Homo sapiens: one gene and its partners. The protein of the gene in region 1 purifies or fractionates together with the protein of each later gene. This does not show direct contact. Each region holds a gene or a part of one and is shown in the gene's direction. Other genes may lie near its edges. The genes, in order: CUL1, FBXO7, FBXL12 and CHEK1.

Region 1 (7,575 bases):
TGCTCCAAGGGAAGAGGAACACCCCTGACCCAAGAGTGCCAAGAATAGGGTTGGGTTTTCTGAACCAACTTTTCTAAAGTTGGAGACACCTCTTCAGAGTTTCTGTGGTGGCTGATTCGTTTTATATGAATTAGGGGGTCTTGTTTATAAAGCAGTCTTGTAGAAAAGACCTGTACAAAAATTCATCTACCTTTAATTCACCTTTGAATTATTATTTGTTCATAGAATGAATCAGTTGTTAAAGGACAATCATCTCTTGTATATACAACTACAGAGGGCAGCAGTTTAGTAGGAATTTAAACCCCTTCATCATCTTTAATGACTGGGCCATGAAAGGGAATCTATGTGCCTTTTTATTTCTCCAAAGTTAAATTACAGCAGACTAGAAAGCAATTGGTAAAGTGAATTTCCTTTACTGAAGTTTAAGTGGATTATCTTAAAGGCAAACTTCTTCAGAATGTTTTTGGAAATGTTTTATAAATATCTCCTGTTGGTTTTCACCTTGGATATTCTAAATGACTACTTCATAATCTGTTCTTCAGTGTTGAGGTTACAGTATGAGATTGCCAGTTTGCTGTAGGTAAGGAAAGTCAACCTTCCCTCTTCCTCTGCACTAATCTGATGAGAACTGATCTTTTGAATGCTTGAAGCTGCATTCTGGCTAAGTGGTGCTTGTTTAAACGTACTGATGTTTTAAAACATGGTATCTTTTTAAAATTTTCAGTTCCAAGAACCCAGAGGAGGCAGAACTAGAAGACACACTCAATCAAGTGGTAAGTGCTTCATGAGCATACCCATTTCCAGTAGCTGTGTATTTCACAAGCTGTTTGTAATGTTATTTGTAGATGGCCTCTGAAATGTGAAAAGTAATAATCATTGATTTTATTTTGAATCTCTGGTTTTACTTCCTAAATTGAGTTACTACTTTTAGCATTCATACTTTTCTCATTAATACTCAGTCAGTCCAACTCACTGAATTAAGGGACTCACAAAACTTTCAAGACTCTGGAGTGGAGATTTTGCCATCATAAACGTTGGCGTACAGACCTGCCCAAAGCCAAAGGCACATCTTGGCTCCTGGCTTGTGGCCGGTGACAGTCAGCTCTGCACTGTTGGCTTGTGTGTGTGCTGGTTAAGTGTGTTGTCTCGGTGGCTTTGCCAGATGGTTGTCTTCAAGTACATAGAAGACAAAGACGTATTTCAGAAGTTCTATGCGAAGATGCTCGCCAAGAGGCTCGTCCACCAGAACAGTGCAAGTGACGATGCCGAAGCCAGCATGATCTCCAAGTTAAAGGTGAGTTTCATCTTTTCCTGAAAAATCCCAGCTTCTGAGTCATTATTAAAACAGCTCTATGGCCGAGCGCGGTGGCTCATGCCTGTAATCCCAGCACTTTGGGAGGCCGAGGCGGGCAGATCACGAGGTCAGGAGATCGAGACCATCCTGGCTAATATGGAGAAACCCCATCTCTGCTAAAAATACAAAACATTAGCCGGGCATGGTGGTGGGCGCCTGTAGTCCCAGCTACTTGGGAGGCTGAGGCAGGAGAATGGCATGAACCCGGGAGGCAGAGGTTGCGGTGAGCCGAGATCACACCACTACACTCCAGCCTGGGCAACAGAGTGAGACTCTGTCTCAGAAAAAAATAAAAAAGCTCTTAGTCTCTCCAGGTTATGAGGCAGGCAGAGGAGTTTGTGCAGTGGTTTGTACAAGAAGCTCTGCCACTGCTCTTCTGAAAGCCTCCCACAACTATCACTCTACTCTCGTTGGGCCCCGGTGCCTTCCCAACCCCTTCCCCACCCCACTGTGGGGCTTCCATCCTACCCAGGCCTGGCTGGGCTCAGCTCACCATCTGTGGGGCCTCTCCTGCCTCCCACACCTTTAGCCTTGCAGCACATTCACACTTCCACACTGTGCTGGCCTGGAGCTGAGTGGAGGTTTTGTTTGCTCTGGGCTTGGTTACTTTGCTGTCACGCAGCCCTTCCTCTGCCACCTCCTTTGCGTGCCTGTGTGTCGGCGCTGTCGAGTGCTCTTATCTGACTTGGGACATACTTTACTTTGGCCCCAAATTATGTAGGTATCTTTGTCAGCGTGGGCTGCCATGACGGAATACCATAGACCAGGTAGCTTAAACAACAGAAATAGTTTCTCACAATTCTGGGGGCCACAAGTCCGAGATCAGGGTGCCAGCTGATTCGGTTCCTGGTGCAGGCCCTCTTCCTGCTTTGTAGGCAGCCACCTTCTTGCAGTGCCTCACGTGTCAGAGAGAGAGTGCAGAGCTCTTGCACATCTCTTACAAGCACACCAATCCCATTGTGAGGCCCCATGCTCAAGACCGCATACCTCCACACAGCATCACGTTGGAGGTTTGGGCTTCAACATAGGGATTTTGGGGGCACACAGTTCAGCTTCTGGTAAGAGATAGAGACAGATTATTTCATCATTGTATTCTACCAGTGTCAGGACACCTTGCTCTTAAATGCTCACAAATTGTGTATGAATTGTGTGTGTGAACACTTCACTGTGCAACATAGAGTTGTGGGGTTTTTTGACAGTGTATTAATATTAATCCATGCATATTTGTACTGTAAAATATAGCAAAATGTTACTAGCTTTGCTAGTAGTTCCATATAATTAAGTATATATTGTATACTCTGATTTCTCTAAGATTCCCTTGTATACATTTGTATTTTTGTACAAATTAATAAGACAGTCATCTGGGTTCTTCTCAGCAAGCTTGCGGGTTCGAGTACACCTCTAAACTTCAGCGCATGTTTCAAGACATTGGCGTGAGCAAAGATCTGAACGAGCAATTCAAAAAGCACTTGACAAACTCAGAACCCCTAGACTGTGAGTATCCGTGTGTCTCTATGTTGTGTTTACAGGCAGAGTTCTCTGTAGCAAATGAAGAAATGACAAAATATTAGGTGAAGATGGGAGGGGCTTTGTCAGAAATTCAAGAACTAAGAAGCGGGAGATTCCTCCCAAATGCCCAGCCCTCCTCCCCCGACTCCCGTGTGACATTAGGAGATGACAACCCTTGAAGTGGTGTCAGCTCTACTGGGGCAAGGTCACCACCTGTTGGGATCTGGGGAGGGACTCACAGGCGTGGTTTTGTCTTGTAAACCTTAGCTTGGATCCATTCTAGCATTTATTTTAATGTTCACTTGGCCTGCATAGGTAACAGTCAAGCTAAAGACCTGTGGCTTCAGACTGGGATTAGGGATCAGTACAGGCAGGTGCAGGTGATTCAGTTCTCCAGGAGAGGCAGCTGGGCTGGTATTTTAGGGCCTTGCATAGTAGTAGGATGGCGGATTTATGCTTACATCATCTTTTGATCATCTTTGTCTTTTTAAATGAAAAATGGAGAATTTTATTTTTCCCAAATCAGAATGACAATTCTATTGTAAAACTGGACAGTTTTGCCAGTGGGCTTTTTAACTATCTGCGAAGATGAAATTACTGTTATAATTTATAGACCATGTGTGGCGTTTCCCAGTAATAAGTGAAACATACACTATAATGAAGTTAGCGGTTTTCTCCTGCTTGTGAGTTTGCATGAGTCTGGGGCTGTGATGATGCCGGGCCTGGCAAGCACAGGCGTGGCTTGAGTGGACTGAGTGATTCAGGACAGAAAAGGAAAGCAAGGGAAGCAGGGCAGGCGTGTGACAGCAGAATTCCGAGGTGGAAGCAAAATGAAGACTCTCACTCTTTGGAAGAAAAGAGTATCTGGCTCTTGCACTTTTTGCTAATTTTAATTGAATAAAATGTTCAATTCTTAATTTTATATTCAAGCAGGATTTTTATTTAATGTGCTTTTTAATAAAGAGCAATCCACATTCATCTGAAATGATTGAATTTTTCAGTTTATAAACTAATTAATGTATTCCAGAATGTTCACTCTCCCCTCTCTTCCGTCCCACAGTGGATTTCAGCATTCAAGTGCTGAGCTCCGGGTCCTGGCCCTTCCAGCAGTCTTGTACATTTGCCTTGCCGTCAGAGGTAAGGATGGGTTTGTCTGCCATCCCATTAGTGCTAAGTGGAGGGTGGGGCAGGGCAGCCTTCACTGTGGAAGGGGACAGGCCTGCAGATGGCCTTCCTGCTGGCTGGCTGCATCACGGTGAACCATGGGGGCAACACTCAGGGAAGAGCCCTGTGCAGTGGGGCAGGTCTGGATGTCTAAAGGTGGGCTGTCTGTCCCAGCTCTACAGACATGTTTCCTTATCTTGTAAAGCAGAACCTAATTAGTTGTGTAATGAACACCTCGATGGACCTGCTGGTCTTGAAGTACAAACCTTTTTTAAGATTGTACCTTCCAGTGCTTAAAGTGCTTTACAAGAGAGGCAGACACCTGGCGTTTGTATTTTACTTTTATGTAAGCACTGACTTTGTACTGTAAGCTTGGAACAGTGGGCTTTACTTAGAAACGCTGCCTGTAGGATGTGGTGAGATCTGTATTCCATATAATGCTGTCCTTTTATCTAGTTGGAACGTAGTTATCAGCGATTCACAGCTTTCTACGCCAGCCGCCACAGTGGCCGAAAATTGACGTGGTTATATCAGTTGTCTAAAGGAGAATTGGTAACTAACTGCTTCAAAAACAGATATACTTTGCAGGTAAGATCACATTTTTATCTTAAAATTTTTCTATTCTAAATGAACATAAGGCAAATTATGGAAATCATTATCAGCTGACTCAGCAGCAGAATCTAGAATTCAGCTTCTGGTGAAATAGTGGCAGGTTTAAAGCATGGAGTTGTAAGAATCAGATGAACCAAATTCCAATTCTTTCTGGCTGGGGAGCAAGTTATTTAATGATTGTGAGCCTCAGTTTTCTCCTCCATTAATGGGAGTGTTAGTACTTTATAGTTGGGAATTGATGTGAAAATTAAATAATGTATTTAGTAAGTGTTTGGCACCGCTCCTGCCTGACACACATCAGCTGTTCAGGTAGTGACTTCAAAAGCTGGAGTTGCATGCATTTCATTATATCAGCTCTCCACCTTACACAGAGCACTTTCACATTAATAACACTCAGTGCTGACAACAATATTGAGTACAACCTAATTTATACCTATGTAACTAAGAATATTTCCATTTCTTAGAGGAGAAAACTGAGGCTTGGGTTAATTTAAGTGAATTTCTCTGAATCCTAGCTTATATGTAGCTGAGCCAAAATTTCAGTTAAAGTCTTTTCTCTTAAAGTCTAGGCTTGGGCTGGTGTGGTGGCTCACGCTTGTAATCCTCACGCTTTGGGAGGCTGAGACCAGAGAATCACTTGAGGCTAGGAGTTTGAGACAAGCCTGGACAACATAGCAAGACCCCATCTCTAGATATTTTTTAAAGTAAAAAGAAAAAAAAGTCCAAGCTCTTTCTACTTCCACTTTTGTACTGAGTGGTCTTCACAAGTAATGGCATATTTTAGTCTCTGAGAAGTTTTCACCAGTGAGTTTCTAAGAAGAATTGCAAATCTGTGTTTAAGTATTAAGAAACTCCAGAATGGGTTGTTCTGCAGACTCAAGCTGCTCATTAATTTAAACTTTTCGTAAATCTACTGTGACTTAAAATTGTTAAAATGCATAGTATTATGCTGGCTCCAGAGGTCTTTATCAACTTGAATGTTTCTTACTATACAATTGAAATTTTGTTTCATTTATCCCCAAATATACATAGAAGAATCCATGTGTTCCACTACAGTACCTGGAATTTCAGTGTCCAGTTTTTGACGGTGGAGGCTTTGCCTAGGGTGTGTCTGCCGTGTTAAGGCAGCCCGGAGCGGGCCCAATAGAAAACATTAGCAACACGCTCGTTCCCTTGTATCTCTGTTCAAGGCCCTGGAAGCAGTGTTGTCTGTGGGCCGCCCTGAAACAGGCATGTGGCGTTTTTTGTTTCTCTTTCCATTGACCAAGGTCTTGCCGAGAGGCAAGCAGTGACTGACAGTCATGGGTCATTACTTGTTGCTGTCGATTATGCAAGAAAACAGGGAGAAGAGAAGGAAGGCGTCCTCGGGGTGTTCATTCGCTTGCACACACTCAGCAATCAGGAACCAACACGTGCTACCTGTCTTTTAGAAGATACTTTAGGGCCGGGTGCAGTGGCTCAGCCTGTAATCCTAGCACTTTGGGAGGCCAAGGCAGGCAGATCACAAGGTCAGGAGTTCGAGACCAGCCTGGCCAGCATGGCGAAACCCCATCTCTACTAAAATACAAAAATTAGCTGGGTGTGGTGGTGCACGCCTATAGCCCCAGCTACTCTGGAGGCCAAGGCAGGAGAATCCCTTGAACCTGGGAGGCGGAGGTTGCAGTGAGTCGAGATTGTGCCACTGCACTCCAGCCTGGGTGACAGAGCAAGACTTTGTCTCAAAAAAAAAAAAAAATAGAAATTTAGTACACTTGCCATTTCATACTTTACTTACTTTTTTCATACTTTCATAGTAAAGTACTTAGGATTAGAAAACCAAATATAATTTGATATTTGTGTTGTTTTACATCAATAATGTGCCAAAAGATAATATTCCTTAGCTCATGTGCCAAAAACAGATTTGGAGATTGATGCTTAACATGTCCATATATACCAGGTGTGTGTATATGTGATTGTCTCTATAAATGCGTGGGGACGTATCTATAGTATGTATCCACATAGACAATACGTTTTTTAAAAAAAACCCTCAAATTATTTTAATGTTTGTAAACATGGAAAATGAATGACTTTGGGAAAATGTTGCATTGTAGTGGCATTGCCACGTTTTATATTCCCTTTTAAATAGATCTGTGCTTTTTTTGTACTTGTTTAAAGAATTTGTTTCATAAATAAGTTCTTCAAACTTGGGCTGTATATTTTGGGAGGTGTTTCCATGCATGTAAATTTTCCTTCTTTTTCTTTTATATGGGGGGCCGCAAAGGCGTCGACATTCCAGATGGCTATCCTGCTTCAGTACAACACGGAAGATGCCTACACTGTGCAGCAGCTGACCGACAGCACTCAAATTAAAATGGTATTCTCATCTCAGGCTCGTTGTTCTATCAGCTTGCCGTTTCCTTGTTCTCGTGGATATTGTTAGGAAAGATAAGGAAGAGGATATGGGCATCTTTAATTTGAAATAGATGTTTGCCTCATGAATATGAATATGGCCTTATTCCAGGATTTTAATACGCACTACAAAAAGCTTCATGTTAAAACTCATTGTTGAGCCAGGCATGGTGGCACATGCCTGTAGTCCCAGCTTCTTGGGAGGCTGGGGCGGGAGGATCACTTGAGCCTGGGAGGTCGAGGCTGCAGTGAGCTATGATCGTGCCACTGTACTCCAGCGTGGGTGACAGAGACCCTGTCTCTTAAAAATAAAACTACGTGTAACACACACACACATACTCCTCATCCATGCTTTTCTCTCATTCATTTAACCAGTTAGGCTTTTCTTACTAAGCTTAAATTTCCACTTTAGTATTATTTTTCCTGCTAGCCATATTTTTTATTGAGATATATTTTAGATAATAAAATTTGACATAACATAAAAGTCATTTTAAAGTGTACAAAGTGGTTTTTAGTATATTCACAAGCTTATAGAACTACCACCATTA
Region 2 (7,575 bases), on another chromosome or scaffold:
AGTTTGTTGCTTCCGGGCTTATTTGAATTCTGAGCTTGTTTAACGTGGGCTTTTGGGTTTGCGCTATGTTCCACTAAAAGGCATCATAACTGATGATCAGTAGAAGGGTGAATTTAGCTTGTCATCATCAGTAAGAGAGATGAATTTATACTCAGTCATATACATAATACTCCTCTAACTTTTTGTGATTATGAATATATGGATCTGGTTTTTCGGAACCATTATAAGTAAACTGTCCTGTAAGGATATTGAATAGACATCCTTGATTTCACGCTCATCTCTTGATCTTCCCAACTAGTGTTTGGTGGTTGCATTTATTTCACAAGTACTTTATTTGCCAGTGTTGAAGATATGGTTTGAACTGTTCAGACAAGATCGCTGATCTTATGAAACTTAAGTTGTAGTGGCAGAGGTAGGGTAGACAGATCATAGACAAGTAAATACGATGTTTTCAAGTAGAACATAACAGAATAGAGAGCGCTGGAGTCTGAATGAAAGGCATCTCTGAAGAGGTGACATTTGGGCTGAGACTGGAATGATGAAGAGGAGTCAGTCATTTGAAGATCTGGAAGAACAAACGGAGAGGCCCGAAGGCTGCAATGAAGTTGATCTGCTTTTTGGAACGGATGGAAAGCTCATGTGAATAGAGAACAGTGAGAGAGGATGGATGGCACAGGATGCAGTAGGAGAAATGGGAAGAGGTCAGACGTTGAGCTTTGGAAGTTAGGTTAAGGATTCCAAATAGAAGCTATTGGAAGATTTTAAGTGAAGGAATGATGTGATCTAATTTGTATTTTAAAGGTATTTCACTGAATCTTAGTTGCTGTCACTTGTAAGACATATTGTTTTATGTAACAGCAGGGGAAAATGCTGTCAATTGATATGTCATTGATTTTAGGAAGTATCTTAATTTCAAAGATGTCAAAAAAAATTTGTGCATCTTAGAATTGAGGAAAGCATGGATTAGTGATAGAGGATTACTGTATCCCGTCCCCCAGGTGGAGAGTTTTAGCCATTAGAAATCTATAGATTAGGCATTCATTGATAAATACTTTTGATAATTTTCTCAAAACTATAAGCTTGATAGGGTAATGCGTGCCTATAGTCCTAGCTCCTCTGGAGGCTGAGGTGAGAGGATTGCTTGAGCCCAGGAATTTGAGGCTGCCATGAGCTGTGATTGTGCCACTTCACTCCAGCCTGGGCAACAGAGTGAGACTCTGTCTCTAAAAACAAACGAAAACAAAAACAAAAATGTAGCTGGACATGGTGGCTTATACCTGTAATCCCAGCAACCCAGGAGGCTGAGGCAGGAGGATTGCTTGAGGCCAGGAGCTTGAGACCAGCCTGGACAACATAGTGAGACCTTGTCTCTTCATCACTTAGTTCTTCTAGGGTCATACTGTGTACTTATGTATGCTTCAGATGTGCTATTGAAGGTATTAGAAGTAGGTAGTTCTTACTATGCTTATCTGTCTTTCTTGGCAGTTCTAATACCCGATTTACAATTACATTGAACTACAAGGATCCCCTCACTGGAGATGAAGAGACCTTGGCTTCATATGGGATTGTTTCTGGGGACTTGATATGTTTGATTCTTCAAGATGACATTCCAGCGCCTAATATACCTTCATCCACAGATTCAGAGCATTCTTCACTCCAGAATAATGAGCAACCCTCTTTGGCCACCAGCTCCAATCAGACTAGCATGCAGGATGAACAACCAAGTGATTCATTCCAAGGACAGGCAGCCCAGTCTGGTGTTTGGAATGACGACAGTATGGTGGGTATTAAACACCAATATATCAAATAGAGTAGGTGATAAGTCATATTGAACACCTCAGTTGAATTCTGTTCCAGTCAGGATAATTATCATCGATAGATTGCACATTTTATATATATTTTTTTCTTTTTTTTTTTTTTTGAGACAGAGTCTCACTCTGTCACCAGGCTGGAGTGCAGTGGCGCAATCTCTGCTCACTGCAACCTCTGCCTCCCAGTTCAAGCGATTCTCCTGCCTCAGCCTCCCGAGTAGCTGGGACTAGAGGTGCACACCACCACGCCCAGCTAATTTTTGTATTTTTAGTAGAGACGGGGTTTCAGCATGTTGGTCAGGATGGTCTCGATCTCTTGACCTCGTGATCTGCCCTCCTCGGCCTCCCAAAGTGCTGGGATTACAGGCATGAGCCACTGCGCCTGGCTGCAGATTATATTTTTATAGAATATATTTTTTTTAACTGCCAAATGCCTGTACCAATATGGGGCTGGCATCCCAAAGTACCTAGTGTCTGTCTGTTTTGTTCACATACTCTCCTTCAGATCAGTTATTCCTTGACTTCTATTATTGTTCCTAAGCTCATGATTCCTAGCCTTGCTTCTCTGATCTGGTCCGCTCATTAAGGCTATAGATGTGGTCTAATTATTTCCAGATGACTTGCAGGATATTTATACCTGGATTTTAAATTGTCATTGCAGACTTTAGATGTTGAACATAAATTTGGAAATATGTGTGCTCAGTTCCCTTCTTTGTCAGTGGCACTGCTGGTTTTCTGTGATTTTTGACTCCTTAAATCTAGCCCATTAATAAGCTTTGTCAGTTCTTCTTTTCCATTTCGGGTTCCATGGCTTTATTCCTCAGTCTGTTTTCTGGATTTGCCTTCTTCCTACATGGTTCTGATGCTATTGTTCCCTTGCTGTCTTTCATAACTCTATCTCATAAACTTGTGCTCATAATTTTTGAGCTGAAAAAGACAATATATCTCTAGTTCAACCCTGTCATTTTACAGAAGAGGAAAATGGTGTCTGTCCTCCTGTACCTAGTGCTCAAGGCTTTCTGAAAAGTTACTCCACTCAACTTTTTTAGGGCTAGTTTCTGTTCTTCCTTCCTTTAAACTGTCATCTCCAATCAGAACAGACCCATCATTTTCCCCCGCCCCCACCAACCAGCACATTCACCTGCTTGCATGCATGTGCACACACACAACCTGGTGACTACTTTTGTGACTTTGCTCTTGCTGTTCACCCAGACTGGAACCTGTTACCTTTCCTCCCTCTCTAGTCTATATTTCTACCCATCTTCCTAAGCCCTTGCCAACCATAGCCCAATAGTTTTCTTTAATTTCTTTGTATTGATTATCTGATTATCTTTATTGCCTTGTACATGCCTCCTCATTTTTCCCACCTTTTTTTTTTTTGGTGACAGGATCCCACTCCCTCACCCAGGCTGGAGTGCAGTGGCACAATCTCAGCTCACTGCAACCCTACCCTTCCGGGGTCAAGCGATTCTCCCACCTCAGCCTCCCGAGTAGTTGGGACCACAGACACCACCACGCCTGGCTAATTTTTGTATTTTTGGTAGAGATGGGGTTTCACCATGTTGCTCAGGCTGGTCTTGAACTCCTGACCTCAAGTGACCTGCCCACCTTGGCCACCCAAAGTAATGGGATTACAGATGTGAGCCACCGTGCCTGGCCTTTATCCGCCCTTTTAATTTTTTGAATGGTGCAAATGATCACCTTTATTTTTTTAATACCAATACACATGCCTTCTTGTTAATTGGTTTTTGTATGTATGCTTATCACCTCAATTTAATTGCTGGCCTTAAACATTTTTGAGTATAAGTATTCATGGTAACTTGTCATGGCATTAAGTATAGACATATTAAAAAATACTTTTTAATAGATTGGTAAATTGTGAAAATTATGTCCAGATATGTGGATTTTAATTTATTTTTAAAGTTATTGTTTTATCTGTGTGTTTCTGCCTCATAGAGGTAAACTGGGGAATGAGTAAGAATATTTCGCTGTATATTTAAATTATATTTCTGAGTCTTTTTTGCTGATAGACTTGTTCTGGGATGACTTAGTAGGGGCCATTACTTTTACTTCTGTGTACTTTTAAAGTTGTCTAGTAAGATGAAGCTTTTCACAGTATTTGTGATAGTTTGCTAGTTTCCTTTTGGAAAATTTTGAGAAATTAATGTTGCCTGAAGTTACTAATTTCAGTTCTAAGATTTTGCATATTGTTTTGTATTCCAAGACTTGTAAAGGGTGACAGGAAAATCTTTAGAGTATGGAAACTGAGCTCAAGATCTCATAAATAATGCTTTCAAGTACATCACACTCTGTAATGTAGAATGGAGCATTAGAAAAGGAAAATAGATGCGTAAAACTTGAAACCATAGGAGGTAAATTTACTCTTGTAATTAAATATCAGTTTTCTTATTTCATCATATTTGGGAATTCATCGAGTGCCTCTTGAGTCTTTAATGAGAAACGGGTAGCAGGTATCAGAACCTAATATTAGCTCTCATGCATCTTAGTCACTTGTTTTAGTCTTTTGTAAATGACATATGGCAAAATGATCTGTTTAGAGAGGTGTGGTGCTCACCTTTTTTTTTTCATTTTTACACATGTGAAGAATTTGATAAATATTCATATCAGAATAGCTCAGAGAATGTCAGTGGTTCTTATGGAGTAGTAGTAAGGCTTGACAAGCCCAGCAGGGGATTTTGATATCTCCCTCTCATGTACTCAGCCTAGGGTACCCTTTTTCATTTTTCCTCATATATTCTGTCCCACACAACTGCCAATAAGTAGTAAATGGCCAAAAGTTAGACATAGTGGTAAAGAAGCAAAACCTATGTTTCATAGTTTAGCTTGATGTTAAGTGGTTTTTAATGTAGTTGTTTCTGTTTTCTTAGGAAATATGGAAATATTTTTGTGCCATACCTCCTTTTTGGGTAATGTGACTTGTCATTGGCCTTTAGGTTTTAACAGGTGACTTTGGATCTTTTCCATAAGCCCTAGGGCTTAGGTCCTCAGAGATTTTGGAAGAACAGCTGTCACCTCCGGCTCCCCTCCATTTCTCCAACCTTTTACATATACTGTGTAATTTTAATTTCCTTTGCCCCTTCTTTAAACAAACCCTAAAAAGACGAAACGTATGCTTTGCATTAAGAGTTGGGCATATGCCTAGGAAACAAGCTTTCTGAGCAAACTTAATATAGGTAACTTAGTTTTTTTTGAAGCCATGTATTACATCTCAAAGCCCTGAACTGCAAGTTTAGAGATCTGGGTTCGTTTCAAATTTTTATTAGCTGGTAACCTTGATTATGTTATTTAATCTTTCTGATTTATAATTATAGGATCTATAAAAAGGCGATACCTGCCATGCCTATTTTATAGGATTGTTATAAAGTGCAAATAAGAAAACATTTTGAAAATAAAGACATTATGAAGTTGTAAGGTATTATCCTTCAGCATTTGTTCAGCAAACATTGAATACCTGCTATGTGCTAGGTACTTTACTGGGGTTACAAAAATGGGTGACATGTAGTCTGGTTTTTTATAAACTTGCAGTCATGGAAGGATGCAGATATGTAATCAGAAAATTGCAATACAGTGCAGTGTGATAAGGTGCAGTAATCAAGCCCGTTGCAAGGCAGAGTTGTGGTCTGTGTTACCTCTTTTGAAGAAGTGGAAAATACTGGGATGAGTAAGAAGGCACTGGCAGAAAGTGAACTTGATAATGAGTCAGAGATCAGGTAATGAAGGACTTTGTATGCTAAGGGATTTAGAAGTTTGGTCTTCATTTGTAGACCTGCATTTCTCAGTGTCCTCTGAAAATCTAGTTTCATGAGATGGTGTCACAGGGATGTTGACTGCTGAGGACGGAGGATAGTGTTTTTTGGTAAAGTGTTAGGCACACACTATTATTGTTATTAGACTCCTCAGTGCTTATATAATGCGAATAGTGTATTTTGTGAATATGGAGGGTGAAGTTAGGTGGCTGCAGCATGCAGTATTTTCCACACTTATTCCGTGTGCACCACCTTTTTTCCTAAGAACATCTAAGGCACAATTGAGGGAAATGCTGTTTATGTTGGGGAGGTACTGGTGAATTTTAAGCTGCGACATAGTACATGATCAGATTTTTAATTGTCAAGAAAATTCTGGCAGCAGGGACTGGGGTGTATTGGAAGACAAGAAAGTTGAAGAAGGGATACTTGCAACGGAAGCTCTTGCTGGATGTCGGGAAATAAATGATGAGAGTTTGAAGTGCCAATAGAGCAGGAAGGGGCAAATTTTAGACATATTTAGGAGTTAGTTTCAGGGAACTTTGAAGACTGATCAGATGTGGAACAAGGTTTAGTTAGGGAGGGAGGAGTCTAGGATGATTTCCAGGTTCTTGACATACCAGCTAGAATTAACAGAGGTAAGGAATTCAGGATGGAAGAGTAGGTCGCAGGCTTATTTATTTGTAAGGACTCACTTAAAATGTCTCCCATTTCTGAACCCAATGATGTACTTTGACTTTCAGCACTTAGTTCACTTTAGGATACAAAAATGTATAGTGTAAAAATAAGTCTTTAATTAATTCATTGTTTTGTTTTCCTTTTTCAGTTAGGGCCTAGTCAAAATTTTGAAGCTGAGTCAATTCAAGATAATGCGCATATGGCAGAGGGCACAGGTTTCTATCCCTCAGAACCCATGCTCTGTAGTGAATCGGTGGAAGGGCAAGTGCCACATTCATTAGAGACCTTGTATCAATCAGCTGACTGTTCTGATGCCAATGATGCCTTGATAGTGTTGATACATCTTCTCATGTTGGAGTCAGGTTACATACCTCAGGTAAGTACTGCAAGCAAAACACAGACATCTTATGATTGCTCATACATGTGGATGGTTCCTGCTCTCAAGTTGCCCGTAGTCTGAGAGTGGCAGAGAGAGACAAAAATATAAAGCACTGTGCTATATTGGTGAAGTTCTGGGAGAAACATACTCATATATAGGATGCCAGGAATTCATGGAGGAGAACATTTAGAATATTGCTTCTCAAACTTTAATGCGCTTTGGAATACCTGGGGACCTTATTAAAATGCAGATTCTGATTTAGTAACTGTAGAATGGACCGTGAACTTCTTCATACTCCTGCATAATACCAATGTTGCTGGTCTGTGAGCCATGTTATAAGTTACAAAGATACAGAGTAGTTCGGTGATCAGTGCACACCTGCAGCATGCCATGCACTGACCTAGAAATTAGGATATAAAAATATTGGGATATTTCTTGTCTTCAAGGAGTCCATACATAGAGGAGAGAGATGAATAAAAAGATACTCAGAAATAACACAGGTAAACATAGATAATAATACAATTGAAGTGTAATGGAAATATGAATAGAATGCTAGGGGATGAAAGGAAATGGCAAACAATTTTTCTTTGAAAAAGGCTTTACGGAGGAAGTGATATTTGAGCCGGAGTTTTAAATAATCATATGGCTTTGCTAGGAGAGAAGTGAGTCTTTGAAGAGAGAGATCAATCCCTGTTTCCATGATGCAGTTTTACCTATTTGAACAAAAATTTTGATTAAAAGTGTTCTAATATATTATCTTATACAATATGGTTATCCTACAATATAAAATATATTGGCAATGTTAATGATTTGATGCATTTTATTAAGAGGACTGTGTGGAGTGATTATTTCAAACAAGTTAGGAGTCTTTTGGATTTTTAATCTTTTTGAGAGTAACACCTTTCTTCATTATTTGTTTCCCTTTCATTTCGTTCCCCAGGGC
Region 3 (8,177 bases), on another chromosome or scaffold:
AATAGTAATGGAAACCAGACATGCTGACTTGTGCATCTGAACTCCATGTCCTGACCCCCTAGCTGCAGCTGTGCCTCGGTAGAACACCCCTTTTCGTTCCTGTCTTGATGATTGTTGGAGCACTCTGTAAGTTTCCCTAATAAATGCTTTGGACTGATTGCTCTGGTAATTGGTGTTTTCTTGAAATCCCCACTGGCCCCATCTTGGGATGATTTAGGGCATTCCTTTGTGGGAATTCCCCTGCCTCTGCTTTTGGGGAGACTCTAGCCGGGATGAAACAGATTGGAAGGTCAAAAGTGAGCTGAGGGGGCTGAGGTGCCTAAGGAAGTTTAGAAGCAGCACATCTTTGCATTCTCTTAGAAATCCTGGGTCACAGCCAGGCACGGTGGCTCACACCTATAATCCCAACACTTTGGGAGGCCAAGGTGGGTGGATCACTTGAGGTCAGGAGTTCGAGACCAGCCTGGCCAATTGGGGAAACCCCATCTCTACTAAAAATACAAAAATGTGGCAGGCGTCTGTAATCCTAGCTACGCAGGAGGCTGAGGCAGGAGAATCGCTTGAACCCAGGAGGCAGAGGTCACAGTGAGCTGAGATATGCCACTGCACTCCAGCCTGGGCAACAGAGTGAGACTGTTTGAAAACAAAGAAATGCAGGGTCACACAAGCATTGACTGTAGTTACCACTTCATGGTAGGATTACTGAGAGTCTCATTCTCCCTTCTTTTTTTTTTTTAATTTTTTAATTTTTTAATTTTTTTTTGAGACAGTGTCTTGCTCTGTCACCCAGGCTGGAGTGCAGTGGCACAATTATAGCTCACTGCAGCCTCCAATTCCTGGACTCAAGGGGACTCACCTCCTGGGACTTCAGGCGTGCACCACCACGCCTGGCTGATTTTTTTAATTTTTGGAGAGACAGTCTCACTATGTTGCCCTGGCTGGTCTCAAACTCCTGGCCTCAAGTGATCCTCCCAAAGTGCTGGAATTACAGGCATGAGCGACCACACCCGGCCTCATTTTCCCTCTTCGTGGTGTTTTTCCAGATTTCTGACACAGAACATATGTTACTTTTGTAATCACCGGGGGTGGAAAAGGAAATGTTTGCTTTTTCAAAATGTTCTAATTTCTCAGTGCTTGATTCAAAGATCTGCCAAGCACAGGGTCTTGGTGCTGAGCTGTGGGGCGAGGAGTTGGGAAAGGGATGGGAAGTGCTGCTGAGAGAAGAGGAAAATGGGGCCGGGTGCCATTACATCACACCTGTAATCCCAACACTGGGAGACCAAGGTGGTAGATCACCTGAAGTCAGGAGTTCAAGACCAGCCTGGGCAACATGGCAAAACCCTGTCTCTACTAAAAATACAAAAATTAACCAGGTGTGGTGGCACATACCTGTAGTTTCAGCTACCTGGGAGGCTGAGGCAGGAGAATCACTTGAACTCAGGAGGCAAAGGTTGCAGTGAGCCGAGATCACACCACTACACTCCAGCCTGGGGGACAGAGTCGGACTCTCTCAAAAAAAAAAAAAAGGCTGGGCACAGTGGCTCACACCTGTAATCCCACCACTTTGGGAGGCCGAGGTGGGCGGATCAGCTATCACCTGAGGTCAGGAGTTCGAAACCAGTCTGACCAACATGGTGAAACCCCATCTCTACTAAAAATACAAAATTAGCTGGGCATGGTGGCGCATGCCTTAAATCCCAGCAACTCGGGAGGCTGAGGCAGGAGAATGGCTTGAACCCGGGAGGTGGAGGTTGCAGTGAGCCGAGATCGTGCCACTGCACTCCAGCCTGGGCAACAAGAGCGAAACTCTGTCTCAAAATAATAAAGAAAAGAAAGTAAATTTTAAAAAATAAAGTGGATCCTGGTACAAGGTTTACGAGGTATGTAAGAATGCCTCCATTATTTTAACTGAACTCTTAAGTTCTGAGAAAACCCAGGCAGGGTCTTAAGGACTTTGTTTTACCTTCTAGCCCTTGCTCGAAGGCCCCAGTTTTTCCAGGTCTTTAATATTTAACTTACGTATTCATCAGAGCTACCACAAGGTGTTGGTGAAGGCTCACTGCTGTGGTTGCACATGGAGACCTAGCCTGCTGTAGGAAGATCTGCTGTTCTCACAGCCGCTTTTCCTTGGGGGAGGTGGATACTTCCCAGGAGGTAGAGTTTTGGGTCAAGACCCAAGGAGCAAGCTGGGGAGGCTTCTTCTCCCCCCTTGCTTCTTGGGTTCCTGGCCCAGAGGAAGGAGCTTGTATGTGGGTTTCTTTTGCTCTCACCTGACTACTTCCCTCTCTCCAGCCCTGTATGCTGGTGGTGCAGGAACCCCCTGTAACTGAGTAGGGATGGCAGGGAAGGGACACCTGGGTTCTGCCAAACTTAGAGGCACTCCCCTTCCCCTGCCAGAGTTCACAAGAAGGGAAATAATCTTAGGGGTGGAGGGAGGGGCATAGGAGTTTCCTCCCCCCATTACCTGAGCACCTCAGCAGGGCCGGGGTGCACAAGTCCCACCTGCCACCCCAGAATTCAGTCTGATATAGGAGGGCAACAAGCCAAGAAGACACACGTAATGCAGCCATAAAAAAAATGCAATCAGCTGGGCGTGGTGGCTCACGCCTGTAATCCTAGTACTTTGGGAGGCTGAGGCAGGAAGAACTTGAGCCCAGGAGTTCAAGACCAGCCTGAGCAACATGGCAAAACCCCGGCTCTAGAAAAAAATACAAAAATTAGCCGGGCGCAGTGGCTCACACCTGTAATCCCAGCATTCTGGGAAGCTGAGGCAGGTGGATCACCTGAGGTCAGAAGTTTGAGACCAGCCTGGCCAATATAGTGAAACCTGATCTCTACTAAAAACATAAAAATTAGCCGGACATGGTGGCGGGCGCCTGTAGTCCCAGCTACTCGGGAGGCTGAGGCAGGAGAATCACTTGAACCTGGGAGGCGGAGGTTGCAGTGAGCCGAGATTGTGCCACTGCACTCCAGCCTGGGTGATGCAGCAAGACTTCATCTCAAAAAACAAAACAAAAATTAGCCGGGCGTGTTGGCATGTGCCTACAGTCCCAGCTACTCGGGAGACTGAGGTGGAAGGATCGGATCACTTGAGCCCCAGAGGTTAAGGCTGCAGTGAGCTATAATTTCGCCACTGCACTCCAGACTGGGTGACAGAGAGAGACCCTGTCCCAAATTTAAAAAAAAAAAAAGATAATGAAATCATGTCCTTTGCAGTAACATGATTTTTTTTTTTTTTTGAGATGGAGTCTCGCACCCGTCGCACAGGCTGGAGTGCAGTGGCGCGATCTGGGCTCACTGCAACCTCCACAATCTCTTTCATATTCTTTTTTTTTTTTTTTGAGACGGAGTTTCGCTCTGTCACTCAGGCTGGAGTGTGGTGGCGCGATCTCAGGTCACTGCAATCTCCGCCTCCTGGCTTCAGGAGGCGTGCGTGTGTGTGTGTGTGTGTATATATATATATATATATATATACACACACACACACACACACACACACACACATTTTTTTTTTTGGACAGGAAGTAGAATTTATTGGTGAGTATTAATAGGGGGGGCAGCACATTGGAAGCCCTCATGAGTGCAGGGCCAGCCACTTGTCCAGAGGGCCACGATTGGGGATGTACTTGACCCCACAGCCATCTGGGATGAGCCGCTTCTCAGCCACCATGTCTTCAAATTCATCAGCATTGAACTTGGTGAAGCCCCACTTCTTTGAGATGTAGATCTTCTGGCGGCCAGGAAACTTGAACTTGGCCCTGCGCAAGGCCTCAATCGCATGCTCCTTGTTCTGCAGCTTGGTGCGGATGGACATGATAACTTGGCCAATGTCAACCCTGGCCACAGTGCCCTGGGGCTTTCCAAAGGCACCTCACATGCCTGTTTGGAGCCTACATTGTGGTAGTGCAAGGTTAGAAACATGAACATCCATCGGAAAGGCCTGTCTCCAAGGTCCCTTAGAGCAACCCATACAACCAACAGGCTGCGTACACTACCAAGGAAGCTGCTGTGTGCAGCCATTGCACACACACATTTTTATAGTTTCTTGGTGGACTTGCCAATTCAGAAAATATCTGTAGTATCAATGAAAGTGAAAAATTCAACAGGTCCTTTGGCCACGATATTCCAGTAATACAAATTTATCCTTGTGCATAGACATCAAGAAGCATCATTAAGTAAAAAAATAGAGTTCTCTGACTCTCTACCAAGCCATTCGCTCGGGGCCAGACCCACAGGCCTCGCCCCGCCTCAACCACGCCTTCATGGCGTAGTCTTCTCCCTGTCTCCGTCCCCCGCTCCCCACCTTCCGAGCGTCTCCATCGCTCCCCAGCCACGCCCTTGGCGCCTGGTCCTGCTGCAGCCTGGTTTCCGTCCAGACCACGACCTCTCGGCTAGGTCCTCGTCGTCAACCCCGCCCCCAAGGTCTCGCCCCGCCCCAGCCCCGCCTTCCAGCGGTTGTCCGAGCCTCTACCCGCCCTAGCCACGCCTCCAAGGCGTGGTTCTCGTCTGCAGCCCCACCTAGGCCTCGCCCCGCTCCAGCCGCGCCTTCCGGGCTTGATCCTCGCCCCACCCCAGCCACGCCTTCTGGACTTGGTCCTCGTCTCTAGCCCCGCCCCCTAGCCGCGCCCCAGCCCCGCCTTCTGGACTTGGTTCCGTTCTCTGGCTCCGCCCCTGAGCCTCGCCCAACTCCAGCGACGCCTTCCGGGCTTGGGCCTCGCCTCTAGCCCCGTCCCCGGGTCTCGCCCCTCCCCAGCCACGCCTTCCGGACTTGGTCCCCGTCTCTAGCCCCGCCTCCGATCCTCGCCCCACCCCAGCCACGCCTTCCGGACTTGGTCCTGGTCTCTAGCCCCGCCTCCGATCCTCACCCCACCCCGGCCACGCCTTCCGGACTTGGTCCTCGTCTCTAGCCCCGCCTCCGAGCTTCGCCTCACTCCAGCCCCGCCTTCTGGACTTGGTCTTAGTTCCCAGTCGCGGCCAAATCACGCCTCAGCCACCTCCCGCAAGCCTCTCACTGCCTCAGCCACGCTTTCCAGGCTGGTTTCTGGTCCCCATCCGCGGCTGGTCCGGCCCTGGGACCGAATCACTTCCCAGCGAGAGGAAGGTCAAATTTCTCGACCGGCTACGGGAAGGTCGCGGCCGCCGCCCTGTCAGCCGCCTCGGCGCCCCCAGGACCCCTCGGGTCTCTTTAACCGGAAGCGGAAGTGCGTGTCGGCGGGATCATGGCGACTTTGGTCGAACTGCCGGACTCGGTCCTGCTCGAGATCTTCTCTTACCTCCCGGTACGGGACCGGATCCGCATCTCCAGGTGCGGCCCCGCCTCCGGGGGGAAGGGCAGGGCGGAGGGCGCAGCTGGCACCTGGAGATGCGATGTGGCCCGGGGCTGGGGTCGTTCTAACCGCGCGTCCCCTCCCCCAGGGTCTGTCACCGCTGGAAGAGGCTGGTGGACGACCGGTGGCTGTGGCGACATGTCGACCTGACGCTCTACACGGTACGCGCAGCTGGCCGGGCGGGCCTGGGCCGCGGTCGCGGTGCCCGGACCCCGAAGACCACCTCTCCCACCCTGGGACTGTGTGTCGGGGCCCGGGCTGGGGATTTAGAGCCAGGCGATCCGGGGCCTATCTCGGCATCATCGCTTACCAGCTCCTCTTCGACCTCAGGGCCTCAATTTCCTCATCCCTGCAATGGGGATAAAGGACAGTACCTGCCTCACGGGGCTATTATGGGACTTCACTGAGATCACGCAGGGAAAGGGCTTAGAACAGTCTGGCACATATTTATCATTCGATAAATGCTAATTTATGACTATGTTATCAAGTTTTTGTTTTGTTTTTGAGACAGAGTCTCGCTCTGCTGCTCAGGCTGGAGTGCAGTGGTGCGATTGCAGCCTCGACCTCCCAAGCTCAAGCGATCCTCTCGCATCAGCCTCCTGAGTAGCTGGAACCACGGGCGCTCGCCACTACACCTGCTAATTTTTTATTTTTTGTAGAGACGGAGTCTCACTATGCTGCCCAGGCTGGTCTCGAACTCCTGGGCTCAAGTGATTCTCCCGACTTAGCCTCCCAAAGTGTTCAGATTACAGGCATGAGCCACAGCAACTGGCTCAAAACATTTATAGATATATTTGTTGCCCTTTTTGAAACTGTCTTCATAGATAATTGCTATTATAAAGTGAATTTGCACCCTTCCTTTTACGTTACTTCATATGTGTGTGTCCAAAAACAATTATAGTGTTAGTAATGTATTTCTGAACTTCGGGTAATGCTGTTCTACTATTTAGATAGTGTTCTACTTTTAAACAATTTTACTGTATATATCCATCTGTAACTCCCTTTAATACAGTTGCTTTTGAAGTTCTTTTTTTAAGGACAGAGTCTTGCTATGTTGCCCAGGATGGTCTCGAACTCCTGGACTGAAGCTGTCCCCCAACCTCAGTCTCCCAAAGTGCTGGGATTACAGGTGTGAGCCACAGTGTCTGGCCTGATAATATGAAACTTTTTCTCAGTTGTTGAAACTTAGTTGTTGGTTTTGCGAGGAAAAGTTGATTCGTCCATTGGTTTTGTGTGCATTTAAAATTTTACCAACTTTAACTGCTACCCTTGTGAGTTACCATTCGGTGGCCACTATTTCTAGTCAATTTCTGCTGACCCACACGGGTCTAAATTTGGCAAGGAAGATTTGATTCCTCTGTCAAAAGTAGCCCATAACATTTATGCTCTGCAGTTTATCTTTTTCTAATTTATTTTTTTGAGATGGATCTCACTCTGTCACCCAGGCAGTGGCAAAATCATAACATACTGCAACCTCCATCTCCTGGGCTCAAGCCATCTTCCTGCCTCAGCCGCCTGAGAAGATTCATTAAAACATGTTTCTTTCTCTCTTGGTTCATGATATGGTTTGGCTGTGTCCCCACCCAAATCTCAACTTGAATTCTATCTCCCAGAATTCCCACGTGTTGTGGGAGGGACCCGGGGAAAGTAATTGAATCATGGGGCCAGTCTTTCCCATGCTATTCTTGTGATAGTGAATAAGTCTCACAAGATCTGATGGGTTTATCAGGGGTTTCCTTTTTTGCTTCTTTCTCATTTTCTTTTGCCATCAACATGTTAAGAAGCGCCTTTCACCTCCCGCCATGATTTTGAGGCCTCCCCAGCCATGTGGAACTTAAGTTCAATTAAACCTCTTTTTCTTCCCAGTCTCAGGTATGTCTTTAGCAGCAGTGTGAAAACAGACTAATACTGTAAATTGGTAGCGGTAAGTGGGGCGTTGCTGAAAAGATACCCAAAAATGTAGAAGCATCTTTGGAACTGGGTAACAGTCAGAGGTTGGAACAGTATGGGGGGCTCAAAAGAAGACAGGAAAATGTGGGAAAGTTTGGAACTTCCTAGAGACTTGTTGAGTGACTTTGCCCAAAATGCTGATAGTGGTATGATCAATAAGGTCCAGGCTGAGGTGGTCTCAGATGGAGATGAGAAACTTGTTGGGAACTGGAGTAAAGGTGACTCTTGTTATGTTTTAGCAGAGAGACTGATGGCATTTTGCCCCTGCCCTAGAGATTTGTGGAACTTTGAACTTGAGAAAGATGTTTTAGGGTATCTAGTGGAAGAAATTTCTAAGTGGCAAAGCATTCAAGAGGTGACTTGGGTACTGTTAAAGGTATTCAGTTTTATAGGGGAAGCAGAGCAGAAAAGTTTGGAAAATTTGTAGCCTGACTATGTGATAGAAAAGAAAAACCCATTTTCTAGGGAGAAATTCAAGCCAGATGCAGAAATTTGCATAAGTAGCAAGGAACCTAATTAGGACCATGGGGAAAATGTCTCCAGGCCATGTCAGAGACCTTCACGGCAGCCCCTCCCATCTCAGGCCTGGAAGCCCAGGAGGAAAAAGTGGTTTCCTGGGGGCCCAGGGTCCCTGTGCTATGTTCACCCTGGGACTTGGTGTCCTGTGCCCTAGCTGCTCCAGCTGTAGCTGAAAGGGGCCAACGTATAACTCGGGCTGTGGCTTCAGAGGGTGGAAGCCCCAAGTCTTGGCAGCTTCCACATGGTCTTGAGCCTGCTGGTGCACAGAAGCCAAGAACTGAGGTTCAGGGCCAGGCACAGTGGCTCACGCCTATAATCCCAGCACTTTGGGAGGCCAAGGCAGGCGGATCACTTGAGGTCAGGAGTTCAAGACCAGCCTGG
Region 4 (7,575 bases), on another chromosome or scaffold:
TTTTTTACCTCTACTGTTACCCTATCATTCCAAATTACCATGATATCTTTCCAAAATGTTCTGATTTAAAAGTGAATTAGAATATATCACTATTCTACCCAAATCCTCCAATGCTTTAGTTCTCACGTGTAGTGTAAGCTAAAATCAGTTCATGACCTGTGAGTTCTTACACAATTTTGTTCCTTACATTACCTCTCCAACCTCAGTTCTGCTTTGCTCCCCCTTGGTCATATTGTTGTTCTTCTTATTGTTCTCCAAGTGCTCTAGGCACACTTCTACCTCACTGTTTTTGTAGTGACTGTTCCTATGTCTGAAAATGCTTTTTCCCATGGGACTTATTTGCATGTCTTATTCTCTTACTTTCTTTGGATATTGACTTCAGTGTCATCTTTCCAATAAGCCTTTCCTGGCCATGCTATTTAAAATGGTATCCTCTTCCCTCTAACACATTTCTTAAATTTTTAAAATTTTTACTCTCTTGTGGACATACGCAATCCAACACGTTTCTTCATTTTATTTTCCTTCAGTGTACTTACCACCATTTAGCTTACTGATTTTTAACTGTATTTGTATTTATTTTATGTTATTTTGTCTCTCCTCAGTAGAATGTAGGATTTAAAAGGTCAAGAGTTTTTTTTCTATTTTGCTCACTGCTGAATACCTGATACCTAGAATAATGCCTGGCACAGAGTAGACCTAATAAAATATCTGAATGAATGGATTAATAAATAAAAAGCAGGTTTAAAAAAAAACTTGAGCATGTTTAAAAAGAAACAAACTTAAGCATGTTTAAGTGGTTTGGGTACGGATCCTGTAGAGAGGAAGAGGCTGACAGTCTAAGAGAAAGGAAATAAATAACAGAGGATCAAGATCCCTAAGGAGGTAGAAGGGTATGGGCTCCAGAGCACAAGTAGAGAGATGAACATTTGATGGGAGAATGGAAGGGATGAAAAGATGTATAATAATACAAATAACTTAGCTTTGGTAGGGATAAGTTGATGTAGTTTCTGTCTAATGGCTTTATTTTTTCTCTGAAATGGGAGGTGGTAGTATAGGTACTGGATGGTAGTCTTGGGAATTACAGAAAAGTGTAGTTTTGAAATGATCCTTGTGGAGAAAAGGAAAGGAAACTAGAGAAACAAATATTATCTGGCAATATTGAGGTTTAGCTAGGGATTGTAACCATAAATTTACAGTGGCGTCATTTTCCATATAATATTCTTCTTTATAAAGCTTTTCCAAGGAATCAAAGAATGTTGGCTATAGCAGATTCATAATGTTTATTGCTATTATCATAAATTATTTTTTATTTTAAAAAGTTCTAGTCCTTTAGCCAGGTCTGTTGTCTTCATAGAACATTGTTCTGTTACCCATAAAAGATGCCATTAAGACTGTGGCCTGGGCCGGGCGCAGTGGCTCACGCCTGTAATCCCAGCACTTTGGGAGGCCGAGGCGGGTGGATCACGAGGTCAGGAGATCAACACCATCCTGGCTAACATGGTGAAACCCCATCTCTCCTAAAAATACAAAAAAAAAAAAAAAAAAAATTAGCTGGGCGTGGTGGCGGGTGCCTGTAGTCCCAGCTACTCAGGGGGCTGAGGCAGGAGAATGGCGTGAACCCTGGAGACAGAGCTTGTAGTGAGCCAAGATCGCGCCACTGCACTCCAGCCTGGGTGACAGAGCGAGACTCCGTCTCAAAAAAAGAAAAAAAAAAAGATTGTGGTCTGAGCATACTCCACACTTTGAACATGTCTACAGATCATACTTAGGTATTGTAAAATACCTAATTTGACAAATGAGTTTTAGTAATTTTATAACTTGGCCATATTTTTTATAAAATCATATAGGAAGACTTTGTTTTATATCTTACAAAAATTTTGTGTTAAATAAATAGATTTAGACATAGTTTTACTTCTTCAAGTTGCCAGTTGGGTTAATTTAAAAACATACTTGCATAGAAGACTTGAAAGCATTTGTATTTGTTTTCTTTTTTAGGGGCAAAAAGGCCCCGAGTCACTTCAGGTGGTGTGTCAGAGTCTCCCAGTGGATTTTCTAAGCACATTCAATCCAATTTGGACTTCTCTCCAGTAAACAGTGCTTCTAGGTAAGACTGATAAAGATTGAGTAGTTTTTGATTGTAGTATTCCCCATGAAGAATAATACATGTATGTGTTTTTTCATAATAATCGACATTAACATAATACTGTAAGCATGAGAACTTGTGTGTGATATAAGAAAGGCCTGATAGATTTTATTTTATTAAATGTATGTTTCTTTCTGTCTTAATGCCTCAGTGAAGAAAATGTGAAGTACTCCAGTTCTCAGCCAGAACCCCGCACAGGTCTTTCCTTATGGGATACCAGCCCCTCATACATTGATAAATTGGTACAAGGGATCAGCTTTTCCCAGCCCACATGTCCTGATCATATGCTTTTGAATAGTCAGTTACTTGGCACCCCAGGATCCTCACAGGTGAGGGAATTTAATTTTTTAAAAGTAATGGCAGCTCTTTATTTTTTATTGTCTTAAAGTCCTTTTTTAATGTGTAAATCTTAGATATATAACTTTTAAATCACATGTATTCTTTTTTGGTCAAGGAAGAAAGAGAGGAGGGAGGCCTTCATGCAAAATAATTTTAAGTCAGACTAAATAGCTATGATATTACTGTCTTTAGTCCTAATGGATTTATTCATTTGTCTTCTGTTTGACATGTAGAACCCCTGGCAGCGGTTGGTCAAAAGAATGACACGATTCTTTACCAAATTGGATGCAGACAAATCTTATCAATGCCTGAAAGAGACTTGTGAGAAGTTGGGCTATCAATGGAAGAAAAGTTGTATGAATCAGGTGTGTTTCATTGATTTTCATTATACCTTTTCCTGAAGAAGAATTTAAATATTTGAGTAAAAGCTATCATTAGTATATTTTTTAAATATAGGCTGTGGCTCACACCTGTAATCCCAGCTTTTTGGGAGGCTGGGGTGGGCGGATCACCTGAGGTCAGGGGTTCGAGACCAGCCTGGCCAACATGGTAAGACCCTGTCTCTACTAAAAGCACAAAAATTAGCCGGCCTGGTGGTGCATGGCTGTAATCCCAGCTTCTCGGGAGGCTGAGGCACGAGAATTGCTTGAACCTGGAAGACGGAAGTTGCAGTGAGCCGAGATCCTGCCAGTGCACTCCTGCGTGGCCAACAGAGTGAGACTGTCTCAAAGAAAACCAAACAAACATAAAAATACAAAGTAATTAGTTAATTTGAAAAAGAAACTATTTAAGTAAAATGTTCTTTACTTTAAGAAATAATACTTTTTTTTATTTTGTTTTATTTTTTAATTTTTAATTTTTAGCCACTGTGCCTGGCCTAAGAAATAATATTTCTTAAAAGACCTTTTTATTGTTATTAAAAATAGTAGGGAGCTGGAATCATTATCTTTGTAAAAACTATGTATACTTAAACTGTAGACAATAACAGTTGACTGCCTACTATGAAAGACGAATACATTAGCAATCCCACACTTTCTCCCATCTCCCTTGATTGCACCCGTCAATTTTTATTGTTTATATTATTAGAGCATAGTTATAACATTGGTATTCTAAACTGTCTTTAAGGCTTTTCAAAAAAAATGTTAATGTCAATGAAAGACAAATAGGGTAGCTGTTTTTTACTCAAGGAGACTAAAGAGGCCTGATAACTAAGTGCAAGTGCAATGCATGATCTTTCACTAGATCATGTATTTGAAAAAAACTATAACGGACATTATTGGAACAATTGGGGAAATTTGAATATGGACTGTATATTAATTAGGTAATGTTTTTGTATCAGCGTCAGATTTCTTGGGTGTGATAATACTGTGGTTTGTAGGAGAATGCCCTTGTTCAAAGGAGAACAAGTGTCAAAGCAAAGTTGAAGTGAAGTGATATTTTCATTCAGCTTAAAATTTAAAAAAATAAAGGGCAAACAACTACATAAAGGCCAATAAACACACACATATCTGGTAGATAAGGCCAATGAAGAGTATATGGTTATTTATTATACTCTTTTTTCAGTTTTTCTGTAGATTCGAGTTTTCAAAATTAAAAATTGGGGGAACTGTTACTGTGTAGAAATCTGAGGTCAGCCTGATAGTCTTCTCACTCACATAGGTGATTCACTTTCTTTCAGGTAGACTCAGAGATAAAATTTGCATAACATAAGAATCATCACTTTAACCATTTTAAAATGTAAAATGCAGTGCTTTTTAGTATATTCACAAGGTTGTGCAACCATCGCCCCTAATTCCAGAACATTGCATCACCACGGGGAAAAAAAAACAAAACACCTCTGTACCACCTAGAATCACTCTTTATTCCTTTCTTGCTCCATTCCCAGACAACCTCGAATCTACTTTCTGTCTTTAGGGATTGCCTTTTTGGACATTTTATATAAATGGAATCATATAACATGTAGTCCTTTGGGTCTGTCTGCTTTCATTTAGCACGTTTTCAAGGTTCATAGCATCTATCAGTACTTTATTCCTTTTTATGGCTGAATAATATTCTGTTGTGTGTATGTATTACATTTCGTTTATCCATTCATCCACTCATGGACATTTGGGTTGTTTCTACTTTTTCATCATTATGAATAATACTGCTGTGAACAATCTTGTACCAGTTTTTGTGTGACCATATGTTTTCAATTTCTTAGATATATATGGAGGAATAGAATTGTTGGAGCATATGGTAACTCTTCATTTAACTTTTTGAGAAACTGTGAAATGATTTTTCCAAAGCACCTGTACCATTTTACGTTCCCATCAGTAATGTAAGAGGGTTCCAATTTCTCTACAACCTTGCCAACACTTACTGCCTCCCCTTTTTGCTATGGCCATCCTAGTGTGTATGAAGTCTTATCTCATTTTGCTTTTGATTTTCATCTCTCTAAAGACTAATGATCTTGAGCATATTCTTATATGCTTATTGGCCATTTCTTTATAACAGTATCCGGATATTTTGTCCATGCTTTAACTGGCTTGTTTTTATTGTTGAGTTGTTAGAGTTCTTTTACATTCTGGACACTAGAACCTTGTCAGGTACCTGATTTGCAAATATTTTATCCCATTCTGTGGGAGAAAATTCCCCCATTCTTTTGTTTTCTTGTTAGTGTCGTTTGATGTACTCAAGTTTTAGATTTTGATGAATTCCAGTGGATCTATAATTTCTCTTTTGTTGCCTATGCTTTTAGTGTCAAATTTAAGAAACTGTTGCCTGATGTAAGATTGTAAAGATTTATACTTTATGCTTTCTTTTAGGAGTCCCAGCCTCCTAAGTAGCGGGGACTACAGTCTTAAAGTTTAGCTCTTATATTTAGGTCTTTGTCCATTTTGAGTTAATATTTGTATATAGTATGATGTAGGGTGCAAATTCAAATGTTTGTATGTGAATATTCAGATTCCAGCACCATTTGTTGAAGATATGTTTTACTATTAGATGGTCTTGGCACCTTTGTTGAAAATAAATAGGTCATAGATGTATGGGTTTATTTCTGGAATCTCAATTCTTTTTTTTTCCTTTTTTTTTTCTTCCCCTGTGGACTCAATTCTTTTATTTCATGGATCTATATGTCTGTGCTATGCCGTTACCACACTATGTTGATTACTGTAGCTTTATAGTGAATTTTGACATTAGAAAATATGAGTTGTCCAAGTTTGTTCTTTTTTTCAAGGTATTTTGGTTATTTGTGGCCCCTTGTTTTTCTGTCTTTTAGGATTATCTTATTTCTGCAAGAAAAAAATTTGGAATTTTAAAAGAGATTACATTGGGGAGTATTTCCATTTTAGTATATATTGAGTATTCTTTATTCAAGGTGCTTGGGACCAAAAGTTTTGTGGATTTTACATTTGTTTGGATTTTGGAATATTTGCATATGCATATTGAGATAACTTACAGATGGGACTCAAGTTGAAACATGAATAATTTTATTTATGCTTCATATATACCTGATACAGATAGCCTGAAGGTAATTTTATACAATGTTTTAAATAATTTTGTGCATGAAACAAAGTTTGTACATTGAACTATCAGAAAGCAAACCTGTCAGGTATGAAATTTTCAGTTTGTCACATGATGTCAGCACCTGAAAAGTTTTGGAGTTTGGAACATTTTGGATTTCAGATTTGAGATTAAGGATGCTAAACCTCTAATAGTAACTCTTCTAATCCAATAACATGGGGCCTTTTTTTTCCCATTTTTTTAGGGTCTTTAATTTCTTTCAAGAATATTTTGTAGTTTTCAGTGTTCAAGTCTTGCACTTCCTAGGTTAAATGTAATCCTGTTTATTCTTTTTTTTTTTATCCTGATGCTGATGTAAATGGAATTTTTTAAAATTTTATTTTCAAATTGTTCATTGCTATATGCAAATGAATTTTGTATATTGATCTTGTATCCTGAAAATTTGCTGAATTCATTAACTCCAGTAGTTTTTTTGACAAATTCTTTAGGTTTTTTAATATATTAAGATTACATTATTTGGCAGGGCGTGGTGGCTCACGCCTGTAATCCCAGCACTTTGGGAGGCCGTTGCGGGTGGATCATGAGGTCAAGCGTTTGAGACCTGCCTGGCCCACATAGTGAAACCCCGTCTCTACTAAAAATACAAAAAATTAGCTGGGCGTGGTTGCGGGCACCGGTAATCCCAGCTACTCGGGAGGCTGAGGCCGGAGAATCACTTGAACCTGGGAGGCGGAGGTTGCAGTGAGCCGAGATGACGCCACTGCACTCCAGCCTGGGCGACAGATCAAGACTCCGTCTCAAAAAAAAAAAAATTACATTGTTTATCAATAGAGATACAGGAAATTGTTTTACTTTTTTTTTTTTTTTTAACCCAGATGCCTTTTAATTCTTTTTGTTTAGTTGTCCTGGCTAGGACTTCCAACATTATGTTGAACAGAAATAGAGTCTTTGTCTTGTTCTTGATCTTAGGGTTAAGTTTCGAGTCTTTCAGCATTAAGTATGATGTTAGCTGTGGGGTTTTTGTTTTTATGGTGAAAGAGTATTGGATTTTGTCAAATGTTTTCTCCGTCTATTGAGATAATCATGTGGATTTTTTTTCCCTTTATTAATATAGCTTGACCTCCTGTGCCCAAGTGATCCTCTCATCTCAGCCTCCTAAGTAGCTGGGACTACAGGTGTACACTATCATACCCAGCTAACTTTTTAAAAATGTTTTTGTAGAGATGCAGTCTCTGTGTTTACCAGGCTGGCCTTGACCTTCTGGGCTCAAGTGATCCTCCTGAGTAGTGGGTACTACAGGTGTGCACCACCATGCCCAGCTAAATTGACAGTTTTCATCAGTCTGTTTATTTTGTCTAATGTTAGTATATCCACATCAGCTCACCAGCTATCTTGTGTATTTTCCTTTTTTTAGATGGAGTCTCACTATGTTGCCTAGGCTAGACTGTAGTGGCTACTTAAAGGCACGATCATAGTGCAATGCAGCCTCAAATTCCTGGGCTCAAGTGACCCTCCTGCCTTGGCCTCCCAAGTAGGTGGGACTGCAGGCATGTACCACCATACCCAGCTACCAGCTCTCTTTTGGTTAT

Evidence for each region.
Region 2: the proteins of CUL1 (region 1) and FBXO7 purify together in Homo sapiens (affinity purification with mass spectrometry; 15 studies listed by BioGRID and IntAct, with this or other methods). This does not show direct contact.
Region 3: the proteins of CUL1 (region 1) and FBXL12 purify together in Homo sapiens (affinity purification with western blotting; 8 studies listed by BioGRID and IntAct, with this or other methods). This does not show direct contact.
Region 4: the proteins of CUL1 (region 1) and CHEK1 purify together in Homo sapiens (affinity purification with western blotting; 6 studies listed by BioGRID and IntAct, with this or other methods). This does not show direct contact.

The regions. Positions count from the first base shown.
Region 1 is NC_000007.14:148,785,827-148,793,401, forward strand, and holds part of CUL1 (cullin-1), read left to right. Parts: intron 1-724; coding exon 725-773; intron 774-1,162; coding exon 1,163-1,294; intron 1,295-2,730; coding exon 2,731-2,848; intron 2,849-3,923; coding exon 3,924-4,000; intron 4,001-4,483; coding exon 4,484-4,615; intron 4,616-6,899; coding exon 6,900-6,992; intron 6,993-7,575. UniProt on the Homo sapiens protein: Core component of multiple cullin-RING-based SCF (SKP1-CUL1-F-box protein) E3 ubiquitin-protein ligase complexes, which mediate the ubiquitination of proteins involved in cell cycle progression, signal transduction and transcription.
Region 2 is NC_000022.11:32,477,496-32,485,070, forward strand, and holds part of FBXO7 (F-box only protein 7), read left to right. Parts: intron 1-1,485; coding exon 1,486-1,780; intron 1,781-6,401; coding exon 6,402-6,629; intron 6,630-7,572; coding exon 7,573-7,575. UniProt on the Homo sapiens protein: Substrate recognition component of a SCF (SKP1-CUL1-F-box protein) E3 ubiquitin-protein ligase complex which mediates the ubiquitination and subsequent proteasomal degradation of target proteins and plays a role in several biological processes such as cell cycle, cell proliferation, or maintenance of chromosome stability.
Region 3 is NC_000019.10:9,815,856-9,824,032, reverse strand, and holds the start of FBXL12 (F-box/LRR-repeat protein 12), read left to right. Parts: upstream 1-4,953; 5' UTR 4,954-5,219; coding exon 5,220-5,305; intron 5,306-5,415; coding exon 5,416-5,488; exon of another isoform or gene 5,489-8,177. UniProt on the Homo sapiens protein: Substrate-recognition component of the SCF (SKP1-CUL1-F-box protein)-type E3 ubiquitin ligase complex.
Region 4 is NC_000011.10:125,641,797-125,649,371, forward strand, and holds part of CHEK1 (serine/threonine-protein kinase Chk1), read left to right. Parts: intron 1-1,995; coding exon 1,996-2,104; intron 2,105-2,294; coding exon 2,295-2,472; intron 2,473-2,715; coding exon 2,716-2,847; intron 2,848-7,575. UniProt on the Homo sapiens protein: Serine/threonine-protein kinase which is required for checkpoint-mediated cell cycle arrest and activation of DNA repair in response to the presence of DNA damage or unreplicated DNA.